2 linked regions of the Homo sapiens genome follow. The protein of the gene in region 1 purifies or fractionates together with the protein of each later gene. This does not show direct contact. Each region holds a gene or a part of one and is shown in the gene's direction. Other genes may lie near its edges. The genes, in order: NIPBL and SMC1A.

What was found.
Region 2: the proteins of NIPBL (region 1) and SMC1A purify together in Homo sapiens (affinity purification with mass spectrometry; 3 studies listed by BioGRID and IntAct, with this or other methods). This does not show direct contact.

Annotation. Positions count from the first base shown.
Region 1 is NC_000005.10:36,977,270-36,993,954, forward strand, and holds part of NIPBL (nipped-B-like protein), read left to right. Parts: intron 1-7,406; coding exon 7,407-9,032; intron 9,033-16,685. UniProt on the Homo sapiens protein: Plays an important role in the loading of the cohesin complex on to DNA. Forms a heterodimeric complex (also known as cohesin loading complex) with MAU2/SCC4 which mediates the loading of the cohesin complex onto chromatin.
Region 2 is NC_000023.11:53,405,655-53,412,776, reverse strand, and holds part of SMC1A (structural maintenance of chromosomes protein 1A), read left to right. Parts: intron 1-523; coding exon 524-782; intron 783-875; coding exon 876-1,016; intron 1,017-3,273; coding exon 3,274-3,356; intron 3,357-3,507; coding exon 3,508-3,715; intron 3,716-6,820; coding exon 6,821-7,006; intron 7,007-7,011; exon of another isoform or gene 7,012-7,104; coding exon 7,105-7,122. UniProt on the Homo sapiens protein: Involved in chromosome cohesion during cell cycle and in DNA repair. Central component of cohesin complex. The cohesin complex is required for the cohesion of sister chromatids after DNA replication.

The DNA of each region.
Region 1 (16,685 bases):
TTGATTTTCAGTTCTTATATTTTATTTCTTGGTAATGATAAAACTTCTTGATATTGGGTAGAGCTGATTTTTATATATGATGTGTTCAGTGTTTGACAGGATCATGACAAGATAATTGTGTTTCTATGCTAAGAAACATGCTGAAGATTAGTATTATATTTCCTGTCTGTCATGATGGCTCATTTTAATGTTATTGAAAAAAAATGGACTGTATTTAGTAATTGTTGTACTACAATGTTTGCAACATATGTAAATCAGAAATAGATGCAAATAAAGAGATTGCTAGAAGTCTTCATTTTACTGGCTAGGGAGCTGGGTTTTTTTTTCTTTGTCTTTTTTTTTTTTTAATATAGATTCAGGGGATATATGTACAGGGGTTTGTTACGTGGGTATATTGTGTGGTGGTGAGATTTGGGCTTGTAGTGAACCCGTCACCCAAATAGTGATCATAGTACCCATTAGATAGTTTTTCAACCTTGGCTTCGTCCCTTTTTCCCCCTTTTTGAGTCCCCTGTGTCTGTTGTTTCTAACTTTATGTCCGTGTGTACCCATTGTTGAATTCCCACTTATAAGTGAGAACCTGTAGTGTTTCATTTTCTGTTTCTGCATTATTTCACTTAGGGTAGATAATGGCCTCAAACTGCATCCATGTTGCTGCAGAGGACATGATTTCATTCTTCTTTATGATTGTGTACCACGGTGTATATATACCACATTTTGTTTATCCAGTCCACTCCTGATGGACGCTTAGGTTGATTCTGTAACTTTGCTATTGTAAATAGTGCTGTGATAAACATATGAGTGCAGGTGTCTTTTTTATAAAGTAATTTTTTTCCCTATGGATAGAAACCCAGTAGTGGGATTACTAGGTCAAATGGTAGTTCTATTTTTTGTTCTTTGAGAAATCTCCATACTGTTTTTCATAAGGGTTGAACTAATTTACATTCCCACCAACAGTGTGTAAGTGTTCCCTTTTCTCTGCAGCCTCTGTTATTTTTTGACTTTTTAGTAATAGCCATTCTGACTGGTGTAAGATTGTATCTCATTGTGGTTTAATTTGCATTTCTCTGATGATTAATGATATTGAGCATTTTTTAAAATGTTTGTTGGCTGTGTGTACATCTTCTTTTGAGAAGTGTCTGTTCATGTCTTTTGCCCACTTTTTAGTGGGTTGTTTTTTTCTTGTTGATTTGAGTTCTTTATAGATTCTCAGTATTAGACCTTTGTTGGATGCATAGTTTGTAAATACTTTCTCTCATTCTCTAGGTTGTCTGTTTACTCTGCTATGGTTTCTTTTGCTGTACAGAAACTCTTTAGTTTAATTAAGTCCCATTTGTCAATTTTTCTTTGTGTTGTTTTTGCTTTTTAGGTCTTAGTCATAAATTCTTTAATTAGGACAATGTCCCAAAAGAGTTTTTTGCAGGTTTTCTTCTAGGATTTTTATTGTTTGAGGTCTTACAGTTACATATTTAATTCATCTTGAGTTAATTTTTGTATAGGTGAGAGGCAGGAGTCCCGTCTCGTTCTTCTGCTTATGGCTAGCCAGTTTTCCCAGCACCATTTATTGAATAGCGTGTACTTTTTCCATTGTTTATTTTTGTCAACTTTGTTGGAGATCAGTTGTTTTTAGGTATGTGGCTTTATTTCTGGGTTCTCTATCCTGTTCCATTGATCTGTGTGCCTATTTTTATACCAGTACCATGCTGTTTTGCTTACTCTAGTCTTGCAGTGTAGTTTGAAGTTTCCTAATATGATGCCACCAGCTTTATTCTTTTTGCTGAGGATTGCTTTGGCTATTCAGGTTCTTTGTTGGTTTTATATAAATTTTAGGATAGTTTTTCCAGTTCTTTGAAAAATTACGTTGGTAGTTTGATAGGAATAGTGTTGAATCTGTAGATTACTTTGGGCAGTATAGTCAGTTTTAACAATATTGATTCTTCCTATCCATGACCATGGAATGTTTTTGATTTGTTTGTGTTATCTATGATTTATTTTATCAGTGTTTTGTAGTTGTCCTTGTAAAGCTCTTGCAACTCCTTGTTTAAATGTATTCCTAGGTATTTTATTTTGTGTGTGTGGCTATTGTAAATGAGATTGAGTTCTTGATTTGGTTCTCAGCTCGAACGTTATTGGTGTATAGACATGCTACTGATTTTGGTACAATTATTTTGTATCCTAAAGCTTTATTGAAGTTATCAGGTCTATGAATCTTTTGGAGGAATTTTTAGGGTTTTCTAAGTATGGGATCATGTCATCAGTGAACAGAGATAATTTGACTTCCTCTTTTCCTATTTGGATGCCTAATATTCCTTTGTCCTGCCTGATTGCTCTGGGTAGGACTTCTGGAATTTTTTTTTAAACTGGTAAAGTTTTGATATTAAGGGTGAAATGTTGCTTGTACCTCTTCTCTTTAGTTTGCAGTATGAGGTTCAGGAAATAAATATATAGGTTCCAAATTATATCTCTTCCTCTAACCTGTTATAAAAGTATACGCATATCAAATGAAAAAAGTAATATTACTCAGCTTTTCTTATTAACCTGTTCAAAATTCCTGAATCTTAGGATAGCCAGTTTTGCAGGAAACATACAATATCACAATTCCCTGACCAAGAAATATTAGTTGCCCTGATAACTGAATTTTTTGCATGACGTTAAATCTGTATTATGGAAAAATGTGTTCTTGAAAAAGAATGTACTTTTTAAGTGAATTTTAATAGATGTTGATAGTAACAAAAACAGAGGAGGAATGGTGACCTTTTTTTTATGTATCATGTTTGTTGAATCCAAAGTTTCTACTTATAAAAATGGAATTAAAATAAGGGTCATATATAGTTCTAATTGCATATTAGCAAACTTATTTTATACTGCGAACTTTCCTTTGGAAAAATAGAACAAAGTCAACAGATACAACATACTGTTCTTGTAGAAACTTGTATATTTTATTTTCAATTATCTAAATAGTTTTTTCTGTAATCTGTGATGGCATAGTTAACAGATAACTGAAAAGTTGAATGAGCAGAGTTGACATTCAATTTTGGTGAAAATACAGGTATGCGGTGATAACCTGAGGATTAAAGTAGGTTTTGCTGATTTCATATTATTGTTGTCATTTCTAACTTGTTTCCTGAAAGCCACTTTCCTCTTATTTCGTGGATTTATAGTCACGTATCACATAATGATGTTTCATTTCACACCAGACTTTATATACAATGGTGGTCCCATAAAAATATAATATTGTATATTTACTCTACCTTTTTTATGTTTAGATATGTTTTAGATACACAGATGCTTACCATTGTGTTACAGTTGCCTACAGTATTCAGTATAGTAACATGCTGTACAGGTTTATAGCCTGGGAGCAATAAGCTATACCATATAGCCTAGGTACATAGTAGGCTATATCATCTAGGTTTATGTGAATATACTATATGATGTTCACGTAACAGAGACACCTCCTAACAATGCATTTCGCAGAATGTATCCTGTTGTTAAGCAATACATGAAATACATGACCGCATTTGAAAACTTTTGGAACTTAGATGCCACCTAACCCTTTTGATTTGAACTTGGCATATTGCATTCAGTTTCTGCATTGTGTGATGGGATGGTATTTGTTATATAAGAAGTTACCTTGAGATTTTGAGATGATTAAAGGTGTGTATATTGGTCCAAGGGTGTAGGTGAGGTCATAAATAAAAGCAAAATTCTTCTGAAGTGGTGGTTTTAGAGCCCTTAAGAGATGAAATACTTCCTTGAAATTAATTTGTCCCAGTTACCATTATTTTTACTTATTAAAGACTAAATGTTAAAGTGGACATTTAATATATTCAAACATTTGGCACTGAGGACTTTTTTACAACTGTTGTATTACTACTGGTGATATGGAGCAGGCAGGACTATTTGTCTGGCCTACTAGTTGCACTTTAGGATATGAGTTTGTTTGCCAATATATTCGTTTACTGTGAGAGAAATATTCCACTCAATAACCAGAAATCAAAAACACTGTACCTTATAAGTAAGATTAGAAAGTTCAACAAATGTAGAATATTTGTGGAATTCAAGTAAAGGGATAGAATAATCTTAAGAAATGTTTTACCTAGGCTGTGGTAGACCCTATTGTACCCTTGTTCCGCAGAAGAAAGACATTTTTCTAGCCGCTAGGTATTTATGTCCCTTTGTCCTGTTCTCTCTTCTTTGAGCAGTTCTGTATATACGTTGATAAGGCAACTTTGTAACCTAATATTTTATAATATTCCAAAAGGACCCTTTTCTCAATCTTTTTGCTCATACTTTTAGTGTCTCTAATTACATAAATTAATTTTAAAAGGCTATTCATCTTTCTTTGCTTCTGGGATGACCTGTCATTAGATATTAATACCTTTTTCATGTGCTGAAAATTTCTGCTTTCTTTTGTCAAAGAGGGGGTTCCTTTGTTCATCTTTGCCTATTTCATCTTTTCCCAAGGTCCACTTTCCATGTTAGCAAGTATAAGGAATGGCTCAGCTTCACTAATGTTTTTATAATGTTACAATATTCTTGCACTATAGCCCTTGTTAAAAGTCAATGATTACCTACTGTCATTTGGAATAAGAGACCGGGATTTTGGTACAAGGAATAGGACAATTAGCCACTCAGCCTGTATTGTGGTTGAGGGGTGGTGTGTTTTCATTTTACATAATTGGCTACCATGTATACACAATTATTGTGCTTTCTGCTTTAAGTGTTTTCATTTATCACTTGTAGATTTAAGTAAGTGGTATAGTTTGTTTTTCTTGTAAGCGTAATTGAGTTTAGAATTTCTGTAAGGGCTGCATCTTATTTTGAGAATATCAGCATCTGGATGACAAGTGTTGGTTTTGAGATTATGATAATCCTTTTGTATGCATTTTCTTTAGGAATATATGTATTCTGATAGCTAATCTTATGGTTCCCAGTGCTGAAGAGGGCTTACAGGTAATCACTGTCCTAAATACCAAAATGATTCTTCATAGAGATGGCTTTCCATGATTATTAGGTGGTTATGATGTAATGAAGACTCATAACAAAAGTGGGTGGACAAAAGTGACCTGTACAGATTCAGAGCTGCTTTATAAGGAGTAAGTTCATGGTGGAATTGAATCAGACCAAGTGAATCAGAACATACATGCTCTTGACATACCTAAGAATCCTTGTCACAGTAATGAAAATTTTCCAGGTTTTACAGGAGTAAAGTACTTTTCAGTAGTTGAACGATTAAAATTTTGTATTTAACAGCATTTTGTATATACTGAAAAACAATGGTAAGATGTTTCCCAATCTTAATTACTTGTGTGCAAATACTTTCATACATTTTTTATTATAAATAATCATAGGATTCATAGTTTAAATAAAATATATCATTTCTTTGAAATTAACTTACTGTATTTGCTAAATTTTCATTTTAATGTCTTTACGTAAATTGGATTGAGGTTAATAATATATAAACTCTTGAGTATTTTGTAATCCTTTAAAAATCAGCCCTCTAAGCTATGTTAATGTTTTTCTGAAGACTGTGCATAAAAGAGTCAGCCATAGATATCTTAAATCTTCAGATGCCTGAGACCTATGTCGTTGTGTATCTTAAGTATGATTGATTAGTCTACCATTTTAATTATTTTTACAAAGCATATTTCCTCAAAAATATAGAAATCTTAGGTTATATTTTTTGAATTTCTAGAGTCTTATAAAAGTTTAAGGGATAAGCATAAATTGATAAAGCATCTTATTCATGAGATATCAATTGGTTTGCCCTGTGGCAGAACATAAAGATGATTTTTGAATGGCAGAACATTCTAAAAGAGGATTCTATAAACATAAATTTAGTATTCTGATTTCTTTTTTAAGGTATTGATGTAGAAAACTTCCTATAAATTCTTACCATGTTAGTTTTAACTGGTGGAAACAATCTAATGATAATATATTATACTTTAGAATTAAAATGGTAGTGTTTTGCAAATGGAGCATGTGTGGTGATAGATTTGACTGGACAACTGAAGGAGCAGAAGGACTTAGTTTTACAAAATATAACTAACAAATATCTTAAGTAAATTGCGGTTATATTTGATTAGATTTTAAACTGGCAAGAACTGCTACTTCCCACTTTAAAAAGAAAACAGTGGAACTTTGCTATATAGAAGAAGCATTACCATTAGGAAAAAAAAATCACAACTTGGTTCTCTAACAATAAGGAGCCATTTTTCAGTTGTCAGTTTGACTTTTAACCTTGTGATACCATCTTCCTTATATGATATATCACATTAGTGAATATTGCAAGAGAATCTAGAGATTGCCTTGTTAAAATAAATAACAGTGACTTTTAAAACATACTCAAGCAATTCAGCAAATAAACAAAAGGAAGCCAAACCTCAAGGTGCTATAATGTAACCATTCCCAAGACCTAACTGGAGATTTAATTTATAGAAAATGACTAGCTCCCTCTTAAGTCAGAAATGGAATCATACACAGAAATATATAGATGTTAAAAATACCTTCACATTTTATTGTAATGGTGAATTTGTGTTTGTGTGTGTGTTTGTCTTTACATTTCATAATACTGTAAATTATTTCTTTCTGAGACCAGAATGGATCCCAGAACATTATAACTTTATATCGAAGAGTAGGAACTGTTTCCTTCAGTGGAAGTTGCTTAAGACAGGATTCTAATTTATACCTATTGCTCCCTGATTTTAAATTTTCTATACCTATGAAATCTGTTGCTTCCTTATTTTAAATTTACTTCTATCTAACATTGTGGTTAACTTTTAAACTCCTTTCACACTTTTAACACTTCAAAGAATTTGAATTATTGATTAAAGTTAAATGACAAATTATTAAATTCTTTTTTTAAATTCATTTTTTCCCAATGGCATGGTATATATTTTCTTTCTTTTTTTTCCATACTTATCTTAGATACAGTAAAAACTTATATTTCCTGTTTGGTATATTGGCAGATTTGGAGCTCTTTATGGTTTTTGGCTAACAGTTAAAAGTAACCTGAGTGAGACTTTATGATTTGTAACTGGTTGCTTTATTATTAGGAAAAGAATCTGATTTATCCGTGACATCTATGAACATAAATATATGTTTGTATTTGGTACATTATAAGTTCTATTCATTTTATATTCTTACACTTATTTATATCCTTAAAGAGTATGCAGTTAAATTCTTTTTACTATATTTATTGAGATCTCTCAAGCATATTTCTTCAAACCTTACCTTTCAAAGTATTGTGTCATTCATGCTTACTATTTTATGTGTACATATTTGCATTTGCATTTTACTCCATTTTAAAAACATAACCTTAAAAAGATAAACAACGTCCATAGGGTTTTTAATAAGATAAGAATACATGTCTATTACTGATATTGATATTTATCTTTAAATTTCAGATAAGCCTTTGAAAAAAAGAAAACAAGATTCTTACCCACAGGAGGCTGGGGGTGCTACAGGAGGTAATAGACCAGCTTCTCAGGAGACGGGTTCTACGGGAAATGGGTCAAGGCCAGCATTAATGGTTAGCATTGATCTTCATCAGGCAGGAAGAGTGGACTCTCAGGCTTCTATAACTCAGGATTCAGACTCCATAAAAAAGCCTGAAGAAATCAAACAATGTAATGATGCACCTGTTTCTGTTCTTCAGGAAGATATTGTTGGAAGTCTTAAATCTACACCAGAAAACCATCCTGAGACACCTAAAAAAAAGTCTGATCCTGAGCTTTCAAAGAGTGAAATGAAACAAAGTGAAAGTAGATTAGCAGAATCTAAACCAAATGAAAACCGATTGGTGGAGACAAAATCAAGTGAAAATAAGTTAGAAACTAAAGTTGAGACCCAAACAGAAGAACTTAAACAGAATGAGAGCAGAACAACTGAATGCAAACAAAACGAGAGCACCATAGTTGAGCCTAAACAAAATGAAAATAGACTGTCTGACACAAAACCAAATGACAACAAACAAAATAATGGCAGATCAGAAACAACAAAATCAAGGCCTGAAACCCCAAAGCAAAAGGGTGAAAGCCGGCCTGAGACTCCAAAACAAAAGAGTGATGGGCATCCTGAAACCCCAAAACAGAAGGGTGATGGAAGGCCTGAAACTCCAAAGCAAAAAGGTGAGAGCCGCCCTGAAACTCCAAAGCAAAAAAATGAAGGGCGACCTGAAACACCAAAACACAGGCATGACAATAGGAGGGATTCTGGAAAGCCATCTACAGAGAAAAAACCTGAAGTGTCTAAACATAAACAAGATACTAAATCTGACTCACCTCGGTTAAAATCAGAACGAGCTGAAGCCTTAAAGCAGAGACCTGATGGGCGATCTGTTTCTGAGTCACTAAGACGTGACCATGATAATAAACAAAAATCAGATGACAGGGGTGAATCAGAGCGACATCGAGGGGATCAGTCTAGGGTTCGAAGACCAGAAACATTGAGATCCTCTAGTAGAAATGAACATGGCATTAAATCTGATAGTTCAAAAACTGATAAACTAGAACGAAAACACAGGCATGAATCAGGGGACTCAAGGGAAAGACCATCTTCTGGGGAACAAAAATCAAGACCTGACAGTCCTCGTGTTAAACAAGGAGATTCTAATAAATCAAGATCTGATAAACTTGGTTTTAAATCACCAACTAGTAAAGATGACAAAAGGACAGAGGGTAACAAGAGTAAAGTAGACACTAATAAAGCACACCCTGACAATAAGGCAGAATTTCCAAGTTATTTGTTGGGGGGCAGGTCTGGTGCGTTGAAAAATTTTGTCATTCCGAAAATCAAGAGGGATAAAGATGGCAATGTTACTCAGGAGACAAAGAAAATGGAAATGAAAGGAGAGCCGAAAGACAAAGTAGAAAAAATAGGATTAGTTGAAGATCTAAATAAAGGAGCTAAGCCTGTAGTTGTGCTACAAAAACTGTCTTTGGATGATGTTCAGAAACTTATTAAAGATAGAGAGGACAAATCAAGAAGTTCCCTTAAACCTATCAAGAATAAACCATCAAAGTCAAATAAAGGTAAGAATACTTCTACTGATGTCATTTATAATATAATCGATTTTAAGTGTTAAGATTACTAAGTTTTAAAAAGGAAATTTACAAAAATTAGAAAGCTACTACATGAAAATATAACATTTATGTCAAACAACAGGAAATTTTTTTCAGGAGTATAGATAAAAAGTTTCCAGTGAATTTTTTTTTCCCCACAGTTTTTTTCTTCCCACCCACTACTCAAGGTAGTTATGAATGTTACTGCTATTTGGTTACACAGAGATAAGTTATTTTGCTGTTTAGTTATTTCTTATATTTCTGAAATATGCTTAAGTGAATGTTGTATTAAAATAGCTGTCTTTAAAAACTCTCTATTTAAAAATGTCTTACAATACTACATTCTTACAGACCTGTGTCTGAGCCAATTATTGATGAATAATTTGTATAGTTTAGAAAGTTATATAAAAGGTTATTTTTCATTTTGTTGGGGAGATGGTTAGTTAAATATGTTTTATATTTTTAAAACATATCTTTTTGTCCTTGTTTATGCAAAGGTAATAGGGAATGGTACTTACTTTTTAAATTTGGTTAAATTGTAAGTTTGTGGGAGGCGGGGGACTGGTGTTATTTTTGCATGGTTTCTGAATTCTCTGGTTACTTGAGTAAAATTATTTCCAAAGGGAGAAGAATGTCTTAAGTGCCAAAAGATAATGGCCATTTGTGCAGAAGATATACTTCTGTATCCCTTTGTACACAAGTATTTAAAATAACTTTTTTTATTTTTAAATAGAGATGGGGTCTTGCTTTGTTGACCAGGCTGGTTTCGAACTCCTGGCCTCAAGTGATCCTCTCCTCTCAGCCTCCCAAAGTGCTGGGATTACAGGCGTGAGCCACCGTGTCCATACAGTCTAAATATACTGAGGTGTAGTGAAGGCAATAGAACTGAGAGTTTATTTAAGTTTTCCTTCTGTGAAAGAGAATTATTAAGAATTTAGATTTATACTTATATATAACCAAGTATATGAAATCTGGAATTGCATTGGCCAAGAGGGTAACCATTGCCTTTTTTGGCTATTTAAATTTAAGTTAACTAAAATTGGAAGTTCATTTCATTAGTAGTCACATGTGGCTGTTGGCTACCATATTGGACAAAACAGAACATTTGCATCATCACAAAGTTGTATAGCACTGCAGTGTATTAGGAGATACAAAAAGTGTGTGGTTATTGTTTTTCATAACATGCTGTTGTAGCTTGTCTACCAAGAAAGCTCTTTGAAAACATATTATAAAGAACTCTTTATTCAAAGAATGACTTGTGGCTAATCTGTTGTTATTCTTGCTTGGTCTTCGTCAACATTCATTTTTTCACTGTTAATTTATTTCCTTTTGTCTTACAATAATGAAAAAAGATTGCCTTCTGAGTCGCTAATATTTGTGTTCTTTGAGTGAAGCTTTTAAATTTTAAATTATGGCAATTAGACTTACCAAAAGTCAGTTAAGACATCAGCCTTAATTAATAAGTAGGCTTTTTTATTTAACTTGAATGCATCTTTTCAGAGTTACTTGTTAATATAAAAGAGGTTGTAGAATGTGGGGGTTAACACCACAATTGTTTTCTTTTAGGTAAAAATTTTCTTTAAAATTTTTTAGTGAAAGTTTGGGAGTAGCTTATATTTATAAACTAAAGAGTATGGCTATACAATTTTAGAAGAGTCAGGTGAAAGATGGAAAGTGGTACCCTCTTGTTCCTTTGATCTGGACCATCTTTCTCTCCCTCCCCTCTCAGCTTACCCTAGCCTTGCTTTCTAAACTCTGTTCTAACAAAGAGTCTTTTAAAACTCCTTAAAGAACATCCAGAAGTGAATATAGCTTTTAGTTAGTAATTGGTATATTATTTCACCTGGGTTTTTCACATGCAATAATATTGCCTATGAATATGTTTTTAGCACCAAAATGCGTTTCTGATAGTATACTTTTAATGCAGATGTATATACCTGATATGGTCATGTTAGTATGTAAGTAAGCTATCTGGGTGTCTGCCTATTAGAGTGATGTGTGTGTATGTGTACATGTGCATGTTTGTGTATATATACACATATATTAATGTAACTGCAATTACAGTAACAGTCCTTTTCATCAAAAAATACTATGTCAGTGCTTAGATGCATTTCAGGATGCCGTGTAGCTATCTTTTGGATTAATTTATTTATGTCTTAGGATCCATATCTTTTTTTTTTAGTAATGATCCAATTTTGGTTTTGTTTTAGATTTTTGCTACTCAGTTTAAATAGCAGAGTTGGGTAATTGTGGATTTTTTAAAATTGCATGTATATGAAGCACAGTTGTAGATTACTGACCCTTTGTAGTATATACTGGGATTTTCTTTGGAGATTCACAGAAAATCACATTTTGATGTGTTGATGATTTTCTGAGTAAAGGAGTTAGTCTGAATACTGCTGGGATACTTGTATGGTTGGTTCCTAGGGCCAAAATTGAAGAGCCATAAATTTCCATCTTTTAAATATTTTACCTGATGTTCATATAGAAAATATTCATTCTTTAGGATATATTTTAAGCTGATAAATTTTGATTGTGTGATAGAGGTATAGATTTATTACTCCTAATTTAGATTACTTATTTTTGTCTTTTGTATGAGCATGATAAATGTAAAGTGGCATTGTTACATTTGATTTGATTTCTGTGGCACTATATCTGTATCCCTAGTACCTAACAAAATACTTCATACATAATAAATCATATTTAATGCCTATTGAATGGAGATGATGTTGCCACCATTTTCAGGAAAAGCTTTTGTGTACAGATTAAAATTAGATAATCGTCTTTTATGTTCCCATCAATACACCCTAGCTCAAGAGCTACTTATTTTTCAAATCCTGCTTCCTAAACATTGTTAATAACTCTTCACCCTGTCAACTACCTAGTTTTTTTGTTAAGATCCAAAGAAAACCTGCTTATAGTAATATGTGTTTAATTTTTCTGTCACACTTATTTTGATCTATACTGGGATTAATATTATTCCCATTCTTATCCTGCATTGTTAACTTCCCTATCTTTCCATCACCATGTTTATTCCTTGCCTGGGAGGGGTGGAGGGGGCAGTCAGGCAGTGTAACTGTTTGTAGAATTCTTTTTAAGTTCTTCAAATATCTTCTACTAAAATATACTTCAATCAGTATGTTACATGCCAAAAAATATGTTGTTAAAAATTTTATTAGACTATTACCCTAATGTATAGTGTCTCTAAATTAAAATAATAAAGTTATGAGATCCTTTAAGATTGGCATAATCTCCCAGCATTTTGGGAGGCCAAGGTGGGTGGATCATTTGAGGTCAAGAGTTAGAGACCAGCCTGGCCAACATGGTGAAACCCCACCTCTACTAAAAATACAAAAATTAGTTAGGCACTGTGGCAGGCACTTGGTAGCCCCAGCTACTCAGGAGGCTGAAGCAGGAGAATCGCTTGAACCCAGGAGGAGGAGATTACAGTGAGCTGAGATTGTGCCACTGCACTCCAGCCTGGGTGACAGAGCGAGACTCTGTCTCCAAAAAAAAAAAAAAAAAAAAAAAATTGGCATAATCATCAACTAACACATGCCTTCAGTGTTATTAACAGCTTATTATCAGTAATTACAAACATATTTGATTTTGTTGTTTTTTTTTTTAACTCCAGAGTGTCTCAAAATATCTTTGCTTTATGTCTAAGGAAACCATTTTTTCTTCTCTCTCCCCCTACTTCTTTCCAACTAGTATATCATTCTCCATTGTGTGGACTCAGTGCTTTCAAGAAATATCCGTATTATTTGTTATTTGACATCATCCTTTAAACTGAAGAGTAAAGCAGTTTCTGAAAGTAGTCTTCACTGGGAATGTATCTAGCAGCTTTAATAGTCAATAGCGATTAGCCTATATTGCTCACTTGATGAGCTAATGATTGCAGGCCTTACTAGCGACAGTGATCGCACTTCAGTTATCTACTGTTACAGTTACACTACTAAATGCTGATAACTATCATCAGCTGGTTGCCTTTTACTTAGCACTGAACCAGTCTAGTTAGATGGTGTTTAGGATCCTCAGCTTCTGCAAGTCTGAAAGTATTGTTTCTGAGAGTGAATTTATAGCACAGTTTATTAATTCCTAAATGAGGAATTTTCGGTGTTTTCTTTAAAGTAGATTGTAATATTGAATAATATTTAATGATGCAGTGGAAATTTATTTTGTTTCATTTGTACAGTTTTATAAAATACCTTTCTTAAAAACTCAAATTTTCAGTTTCTGTAAAGATTGATATCAGTGATATCTTTAGGAAATGTTTGGAGAAAGTTTATTACAGAAGTTGGCATAATCTGTATCTAGCTCTTGTGACTTTAGAGCAGTATTTTGAAAATTTGTACTCATGATTTCCATTTGTAGAAATTTTCCAAAGTATGCTTAATAGATTGTTCATACAAATATTGCTTAAAAGAAATGCATTAAGTAGAAACCTTTTTATAAAAACTAAAGTTTGCTGGAGGTATTCTCTCTCCTTTCCATTCTGTCTCTTAAGCCAGCCCAAAGACATAGTTTCTATAGGGTTCTTGTGTCTGTAGAAATAGGTATATGATTTAACAGCTAAGGAGCTAGCAAATATTAATTCTGTAAGACCCTGTGCCTATTTATGAAGAAATAATCTTTGACATGCTAAATTCCCTTTTATATTCTAAAAAAAAAAAATTTAATGAAACCCTTCTTTACAAGGGCCTGATGTGAAATTAAGAGTATGAATACCTACTAGTATTACACCACCAATAAAATGGGTTTTTTAATATGGATCTCTCTGTCTTGCCTATAAAAATATTAGCGTTTTCTGGCTGTAATGTATCAATTTTTAAAAATTCTCTTTTAAACTTATTACAAATTATAGTACAAAGAGAACTAATATCAAAACCCTGAATAAGCCTTAACCTTTCAAAGCTTGGTTCATTCGCTTTTAAAATAAAGAAACCAATTTCCCTCCTACTTTATACAGTTATAAAGACAAAAATGAATGTTGTTATAGTAAAAGCTAAAGTATGTCTGATTTTTTTATATAAAGGAAAGTACAGTCATTCAATTTCTAATTGAATTGAATTTATCTAATGAAGAAAGTAATTTTTTAAAATAAATCTTTTTATGTATCTGTACTTTATATTCAGTGTAGATTTAAAGATATTACTGCCACAATTTATTTTTCTCACCGTGTATACATATCAAGGAAAGAATCATTTGATCCCTGCCCCCTACTTTTCTGTAATGAGTAGTAAGTTGTTACTTACATAATGAGTAGTAAATTGTCATTTACATGCAGTATTGAAAATTTTTTTTTGCCCCCACTTACCTCTAATTGAAGTTGAAGATCCATTTGGTGCTTCTGTGTTATATGGGTAGGTTAGTGGAAGAATTGTCACTGAACTATTCCATTATGCCTGCCCAAGTTTTTTTTTTTTTTTTTTTAGGATTTATAAAATTTGGAGGTTTATGTGAGGCTCTTAGTTTTGTTTCTGAACGTGACTTGTTTCCATTGACCAAAGCTTCACTTCAGTCCCAAAGATTTTATTAGTTTACGTGATTTATTTCTATCTCAGAGTTGTTTTCCTGTTTTAAAAAGAAAACAGAACACATTGTTAGTTATCAAATCAATGATTCTTTTAAGTTTTTTGATGATTTCTGGTTTTAATAATCTGGCAAGTGCTAATTTGAGTGATTTATAATGGAAATCAAAGATTGCTTAAATGTAGCATATCTAGGAGTAAATGTATTCTTTAGCCATATTAAAGCCAGAGTATAGAGTGCACTGTATCTAATGGAATATATGTACAGAAGCTGAAAATTTGATATCTCACAAAATTGTGACTAAATGACATTATTCATCAAGCCAGTAACATAAAGTTTTATGGGAATTCAGACATGCTGATTTAAAGAATAAAGTAGTTAGGACAAAAGAAATTAGGTGAGAGATAATCATAAAGCACTAGTAATCTGAAGTTTTAGGAACAAATAACTTGGCAAGCAACAATAATCCCTAAAATCATCAATCCCTAAAATACATCATCATATACTAAGAGATAGCAAGACTTTATGTTTGCATTTAATGGATTATTAACTAATTCAGGGGAAATAACATAACCAATTATGTCATACAGATAATTTTAAGTACTTGCTGTTTATTCATTTCTGTTAAACTGAGTTAGTTATCCAGATCAGGATCCTTTTGTTTTTTTAAAGACAGGGTCTCATTCTCTTACCCAGGCTGAAGTACGGTGGTGCTAATATAGCTCACTGCAACCTGGAACTCCTGAGCTGAAATGATCCTCCCATCTCAGCCTCCAAATGGCTGAGTTATCCAGATCCTTGATGTCATATTGAAGATCTCAGGCCTGAATATGGGAAAGTCATGCATTTTATTTATTTATTTATTTATTTATTTATTTATTTATTTATTTATTTATTGAGATGGAGTCTCGCTGTGTTGCCCAGGCTGGAGTGCAGTGGCGTGATCTTGGCTCACTGCAGACTCCGCCTTCCGGGCTCATGCCATTCTCCTGCCTCAGCCTCCCGAGTAGCTGGGACTACAGGCACCCGCCACCATGCCTGGCTAATTTTTGTATTTTTAGTAGAGACGGGGTTTCACTGTGTTAGCCAGGATGGTCTCGATCTCCTGACCTCGTGATCCACCCACCTCGGCCTCCCAAAGTGCTGGGATTACAGGTGTGAGCCACTACGCCTGGCCCCTTTATTTCTTATCTTTGTAATCAAGCAACCTGGCGGAGTCCATTTATAAAGAGCTTCATGAAATGGAAGAAAGGATGTGGTTAATTCAGAAAATGTGTGAAACCTGTGGAATAGACAATTCTGTTCAAAATGAAACAGCGTTCACTTTTGGAGGATGATACATGTAGAGACATTGATTCCTGGATTTTTTTTCTTTAAAGTTGGAGCACCTTCAGAAATAAAACATTTGGCCTTTGAATTACATTGTTTAAACTTTCAAAGTTTTACAGAAGTTAAAATGATCTAGAGGATACTAGAGAGGTCTTAATTGATAGTATTCTTGTTAATGTAGGGAATAAGAAAGGGTAAACTACTGTTGATAAATGTTGATACCTGCTTTATTGGATATAAGGCATAGGTTATCTGTGTTTGGCTATTGTGAGTAATTTTTTTAAAAAGAAGGAGCAGAGTCCTTGCTCTGGGAACATAATCCATTGCAGAGAGAGCACAAGAACTAGTACATATTTTAACCTTTGATTATTGTGTTAATTAACAAGGAAAATATTAATTCTGGGATATTAGTGTTGAGTCAGTGTGTCTGTGATGTGAACTTAATCTAAGCAAAACACTTAGGTACATTTGCTTTAAAAAAAAAAATCCCGTGATGGATGAAAGGCCAAATACTTTGGGTTATCTGTATTTATAAACCTATGAAGATTATAATGTTTCCAATATACTGCAAAAAAAAAAATTTGTATTCTTAGAAATTTTGGAAATGTACTCATTTGTCTATCAAATACAGCAACTCAGGAACTATCCAGGAAGTACATCTGTAAGTGGACATGAGAAATTGTGAACCAGAGTTAGGCAATCAAGAAGCATCTATTGACTATCCATATATATGTACTCAATATTATGTAGGTCATGTGGAAA
Region 2 (7,122 bases), on another chromosome or scaffold:
TTGTAAGAACCAGGCACATTTCTTGACTTGCAGTTTAGACAAATAGAATATTTAAGCACTCAGGCCCTGGGTAGACAGGTGCTCAGATGAGGGAGAACTCAAAAGGGGTGGTGGCCTTGCCAAGAAAGAGGAACCAATGTGAGGCCGAGCCAATGGAGTGGCTGAGAAGGCCTTCCTAGAAGAGGAAACTGAAGCTAGAAGTTTAAAGGATAGGAATTTGAGGGGCCAACTAAGTAAATACAGGATGTTCTTGGGAGTTGTTAATGAGCTTCCTGGCCAGGGTTGAGGCAGAGTTGGTAGCTTTGCCTTATGGAGTGGCTGGAATGCCAGGCTGAAGTCATACCTTTCAGGGAGTAGTCAGACTGCCCCTTTTTTTCAGGATCTGTGGGGCATTACGCCCATGTTCTTTTAAGTAATTCCCTGAGGTTGGCTCAGGGGCTCAAGCTCTCCTTTGGGTGAAAAGCCTGGGAACCCTCCCTTCTTCCATAGTTCTCACTGGTTTCCCCCACCCCTCTGGCAAAAGGGAGAAGGACTCAGAATTGAACCAGAAGCGGCCTCAGTACATCAAAGCCAAGGAGAACACCTCCCACAAAATCAAGAAGCTGGAAGCAGCCAAGAAGTCTCTGCAGAATGCTCAGAAGCACTACAAGAAGCGTAAAGGTGACATGGATGAGCTGGAGAAGGAGATGCTGTCAGTGGAGAAGGCTCGGCAGGAGTTTGAAGAACGGATGGAAGAAGAGAGTCAGAGTCAGGGCAGAGATTTGACGTTGGAGGAGAATCAGGTAAGCTCTGGAAGGGGTTGGCAGGGAGGAGATCCCTGGGCTGACATCTGCTGACTTGGTCATCCCTGTTCTCCTTCCCTGTCCCTAACACAGGTGAAGAAATACCACCGGTTGAAAGAAGAAGCCAGCAAGAGAGCAGCTACCCTGGCCCAGGAGCTGGAGAAATTCAATCGAGACCAGAAAGCTGACCAGGACCGTCTGGATCTGGAAGAACGGAAGAAAGTAGAGACAGAGGTGGGCTATAGTTATAAGATTAGGGATGATGGTCCACAGAAAAGGATATATATAGGTTGAGCATCCCAAATCCAAAATAATCCAAAATCTGAAACGTTTCCGGTCCTAAGCATTTTGGATTAGAGTTACCCAACCTGTAATGATAGTCTTTTTTTTTGTTTTTTTGTTTTTTTGAGACAGAGTTTCGCTCTTGCCCAGGCTGGAGTGCAGTGATGTGATCTCAGCTCACCACAACCTTTGCCTCCCGGGTTCAAGCAATTCTCCTGCCTCAGCCTCCTGAGTAGCTGGGACTACAGGCGTGCGCCACCATGTCCAACTAATTTTTGTATTTTTAGTAGAGACAGGGTTTCACTACGTTGGCCAGGCTGGTCTCGAGCTCCTGACCTTGTGATCCACCCACTTCGGCCTCCCAAAGTGCTGGGATTACAGGCTTGAGCCACTGCGCCTGGCCATGATAATCTTAATGATAATGACAATGATAATGACAGTAGCTCACATCTGTTGAGCACTTACTGTATGATAGGCAATGTTCTTTACATGTATCCACTCATTTAATTCTTCATTTATTATTATCTTTATGGAATGGCTACTATTACCCTATTTTATGAATGAGGAAATTACAACACAGAGTAATTTGCCTAAGGTCACAAGATTATTGTTATTTTTGAGACAGAGTCTTTCTCTGTCATGCAGGCTGAGGTGCAGTGGTGCGACCATGGCTCACTGCAGCTTCGACTTCCCAGGCTTAAGCAATCTTCCAACCAGAGCCTCCTGAGTATCCAGCATTACTTGTGCTTGCCACCATGCCTGGCTACTTTTTTTTTTTTTTTTTTTGAGACAAAGCCTCACTCTGTTGCCCAGGCTGGAGTGCAGTGGCATGATCTCAGCTCACTGCAACCTCTGCCTGTCGGGTTCAAGTGATTCTTTTTATTTTTTTATTTTTATTTTTATTGTTTTTTGAGACGCAGTTTCTCTCTTGTTGCCCAGGCTGGAGTGCAATGGTGCCATCTCGGCTCACTACAACCTCTGTCTCCCAAGTTCAAGCAATTCTCCTGCCTCAGCCTCCCCAAGTAGCTGAGATTACAGGCACCAGCCACCATTCCCGGCTAATTTTTGTATTTTTAGTGGAGACGGGGTTTCACCTTGTTGGTCAGGCTGGTCTCGAACTCCTGACCTCAGGTGATCCACCCGCCTTGGCCTCCTAAAGTGCTGGGATTACAGGTGTGAGCCAACGCACCCAGCCCGGTTCCAGTGATTCTTGTGTCTCAGCCACCCGTGTAGGTGGGATGACAGGTGGGTGCCACCACACCTGGCTAAATTTTTTGTAGTTTTAGTAGAGATGGGATTTCACCATGTTGACCAGGCTGGTCTTGAACTTCCGAACTCAAGTGATCCGCCCGCCTCGGCCTCCTAATTTTTTAATTTTTATAGAGTCAGGGTTTCTGCTTGTTGCCCAGGCTGGTCTTAAACTCCTGCCTGCCTCTGCGATCAGCCTGCCTTGGCCTCCCAAAGTGTTGGGATTACAGGCGCGAGCCACCGTGCCCGGCCACTCACATAACTATTAAGTATCAGAACCAGACCCTGGGCATTGTAGCTCTAAAGCCCACACTCTTACCAAATATACTTTACTTACTGCCTCCCTGATATCAATATTGTAATAACAGCAATGATAGAAAGTTGTCATAGTGTCCCAGGAGTGTACAGTGTTCAGGCATTCTGCTAAGCACTTTTAAATATTTAAAAGAATGTTGGCCAGGCGTGGTGGATCACTTGAGGCCAGGAGTTTGAGATCAGCCTGAGCAACACAGTGAGACCCTGTCTCAAATTTTAAAAAATAATAAAAATTTTTTAAAAATAATGTGATAGTCATTAATATTAATAACAACCCTATATTAAGCACTTAATGTGTATTCTATGCAGTGGAGATTACCCACATTTTGCAGATGAGGAAACAGGTACAGAAAGGCCTGTGAAGCTTTATCTTGATTTGAGCCTCCATGGTTGGTGAAGAAGATGCCTTGGCTGGGTAGAACACCTATGAGAGGTTCTGGAGCTCTGGGAGGCCCCCATCATTAGTTAGTAGATCAAACCGAACACCATCTATGTCTGCTTTTTAGTAGGCCTCCTATATTAGTGACAGATTGTCCTGGACTGTTCGGCTCTTGGATGAGTGGGCACATAAAGGGTGTGATCTAGAGCCCCCATGGTCTTGGCGTAAACTCGTGCAGCCCCTGATGATGGAATGTTTGTTTCCCAGGCCAAGATCAAGCAAAAGCTGCGGGAAATTGAAGAGAATCAGAAGCGGATTGAGAAACTGGAGGAATACATCACCACTAGCAAGTATGTAGCTCTGCATCTGTCCCCCTTACTTCCAGGCCTGTTCTTGTGACCCTACCTACATGCCCCTCTTCATGCAGGACCCCCAGAGCTCTCTGAGCCAGGAGTATTTTCTCACCAGCAGGAGTAACTCCTGTGTGCCCTCACTTTGTAGGCAGTCCCTAGAAGAGCAGAAGAAGCTAGAGGGGGAGCTGACAGAGGAGGTGGAGATGGCCAAGCGGCGTATTGATGAAATCAATAAGGAGCTGAACCAGGTGATGGAGCAGCTAGGGGATGCCCGCATCGACCGCCAGGAGAGCAGCCGCCAGCAGCGAAAGGCAGAGATAATGGAAAGCATCAAGCGCCTTTACCCTGGCTCTGTGGTAAGAGCAGAGAGGGAACTCATTTCCTGAGCACTTACACTCACTGTCACACGATTTTCCCAGCAGCCCTGTAAGGACAGGGTTGCCAATCCCATTTTTATTGTTGGGGGAAATGAGGCTCGGAGAGGTTTAAAAAAGCACCGCTTCTAAGAGGAAGAACTGCAGTTCAAACCCAACTTGTTCTCCTGAGCTCATGTTCTTTTTTTTTTTTTTTTTTTTTTATTTTTCAACCTGTCATACTAGGCAATCATGTTCTTTTCATCATACCAATTGCGTCTTTCTGAAGGTTTTGTCTTGCTATGTCTATGCCTCTGGGAGGGGAATTGGAAAACCAGGAAAGATTTTGGAAGCAGGTGGGGCCATGGGGCTGGAATTACTCTCCCAGGAAGTAGCTCTGTGCAGTCTTATAAAGGGGCTCCCTTGGCATGTATTAACTGGTCCAGTAGCTTTTAGGGACACCCTGAGCTTTATCAGATCTCTTGATCTTTTGGCCTCTTTCACCAAATCCTGAGTTCCCAGGTTCCCTGAATATTATCCCATACCTGGGTTCAACTTAGTTTGGTTCCACTAATATTTCCCTATCACTTCTCTAGACACTGCTGGGGAGATAAGTATGGTTAGAGTCAGTCCCTGCCCCCTTAATCTGATAGTTCTTAGGGAACCAGGCTTGGTTTTGGAGGCTGCAGGAAGGGAACTGGTAGAAGAGATTGATTGATTGATTGATTGATTTTGAGATGGAGTCTCGCTCTGTCGCCCAGGCTGGAGTGCAGTGGCACAACCTCGGCTCACTGCAATCTCTGCCTCCTAGGCTCAAGTGATTCTCCTGCCTCAGCCTCCCAAGTAGCTGAGATTACAGGTGCTCGCCGCCATGCCCAACTAATTTTTTTGTATTTTTAGTAGAGACGGGGTTTCACCATGTTGGCCAGGCTGGTTTTAAACTCCTGACCTCAAGTGATCTGCCCGCCTCGGCCTCCCAAAGTGGTAGGGTTACAGGCGTGAGTCACCACGCCCAGCCAGATTTATTTTGCTAAGTGCTTGTGAGAATTTGAAATAATATATATAAGATACTTGGCATAGTGCCTGGGTGGTGGTGGTCTGTAAAATGGTAGATGTGAGGTTTAGAAAGATGATTCTGGATTCAGACACGACTGCCTGAAGTCATTGCTTGGGAACCAGAATAGGCTTTTCCTTGATAGCATGGGGGCTGTGTTCTTCTGTGAGATAGGAAAAAACCAAAGTGTTTTTTCTACTCTCACAACCAGCACAACACTTCACTTCTGACACCAGAAGTGTGGGGGTTTTTCCTCACACACCAAGCAATTCTCCAGCAGACACCAGCTGGGTGACCTATAATTCACTTCAGCTCTGACACTATTTATCTGGAGATAGCATCAGATCCTGTGGGTTAGGGGCTCAGTCCAAGACTTCAGGTGCCAATTGCAAGTCTCAGGTTGTGACTTGTGGTTCTGACTGACCTGCTATAAATTACAGTTCCCGAGAATCCCTCCCTGGGTTCGATTAATTTACTAGTGCAGCTCACAGAACTCAGGAAAATGTTTTACTTATGTTTACCCATTTATTATGAAGGATATTACAAAGGATACAGAGAACAGCCAGATGGATGCATAAGGCAAGGTATGGGAGAAGAGATGTGAAGCTTCCATGCCCAATCTGGGCAAGCCACCCTCCAGGTACCCCCACACAGGGGCTTCATTATGTAGTCATGATTGATCAGATCATCAGCCATCGGTGATCAGTTCAACCTTCAGCCCCTCTCCCCTCCTGAAGGTTGTAGGGGTGGAGCTAAGAGTCCCAAATCTAATCCTGCCTTGGTCTTTCTGGTAACCAGCCCCTATCCAGAAGCTATCTATGGGCCTCCAGCCATAATCATCTCATTAACATACAAAAGACACTGCTCATTCCTGAGATTCTAAGGGTTTTAGGAGTTGTGTGTCAGGAACTCACGGGTAGAAGACTAAATATATATTTCATAAAACCACAGTCCACTTTGATCTTCAAACACAGATCCCTTACATCAGAACAATCATGTAATAAATAGAAAGATGCTGGGAGCGGTAGCTCACGCCTGTAATCCTCGCACTTTGGGAGGCCGAGGCGGGCAGATCATCGGAGGTCAGGGGTTTGAGATCAGCCTGGCCAACATGGTGAAACCCCGTCTCTACTAAAAATACAAAAATTAGCCGGGCATGGTGGCGGGCACCTGTAATCCCAGCTACTCGGGAGGCTAAGGCAGGAGAATCACTTGAACCTGGGAGGTGGAGGTTGCAGTGAGCCAAGATTGCGCCACTGCACTTCAGCGTGGGCAACAGAGTGAGACTCCGTCTCCAAAAAAGAGTAGAAAGATACTGGCACATTACTAGAATCCCACTGAGTCATTAATTAATAATTAGTCTAGTCCATGATCATGTCATGTAAAAATGTCTCCTAGGGTGAGGCCATTCAGGTTTGCAGGCTTCTATTCAATCTTGTTAGGTTCCAAAACCAGGAGTGTTCTCGGCAAACATAGCTTCATACTTTCAGGCATCTGGGATAATTGTGCTAAGAGACAATATCATCTCTTGCTCTGAACCTCTTTTGAGGTGTTAATGTAATACTGAGTTTCCCTCATTACATAACTCATTTATTCATTTCTTTACCTCCCTTCTCTTACCCAAACTTTTCCACCTTTCAAAGGGACGTTAGGATTGGCCACTGTGCTGATCTGGAGTGCACACAGCAAGCTAGTCTGCAATTGCCTCCTCCTCAGTCCATACAGTCTCATTCAGATAGGGTAGGGTTGCATGGGTACAGAACTAGTGGGCTGTCTTTTTTGTTTGTTTTGAGACAGGGTCTCATTATGTTGCCCAGGCTGGTCTTGAACTCCTGGGCTTAAGCTGTCCTCCCATTGCAACCTCCCAAGTAGCTAGGATTACAAACACACACTACCATGCTTGGTATTGGGTTATCTTAACCACTAGGCAATACAGTTGCATTCACTTCCTGATATAGATTCTAGTCTGTCCCCCTTTCCATACTGGGAATTAGGATTCCTGAGCCAGCTTCCAAAAGCTTCATACTTCAGTTTTCCCTTCCTACTTTACTCAGTACGGCCGCCTCATTGACCTATGCCAGCCCACACAAAAGAAGTATCAGATTGCTGTAACCAAGGTTTTGGGCAAGAACATGGATGCCATTATTGTGGACTCGGAGAAGACAGGCCGGGACTGTATTCAGTATATCAAGGAGCAGCGTGGGGAGCCTGAGACCTTCTTGCCTCTTGACTACCTGGAGGTGAGGCTTGTTGGGGATTGGGTCAGGCCAGTGTTCAAGGGCCCCTCCTCTAGTACTCCCTGTTTGTGTTCTGCCACTGACTGAGCTTCTCCCCACAGGTGAAGCCTACAGATGAG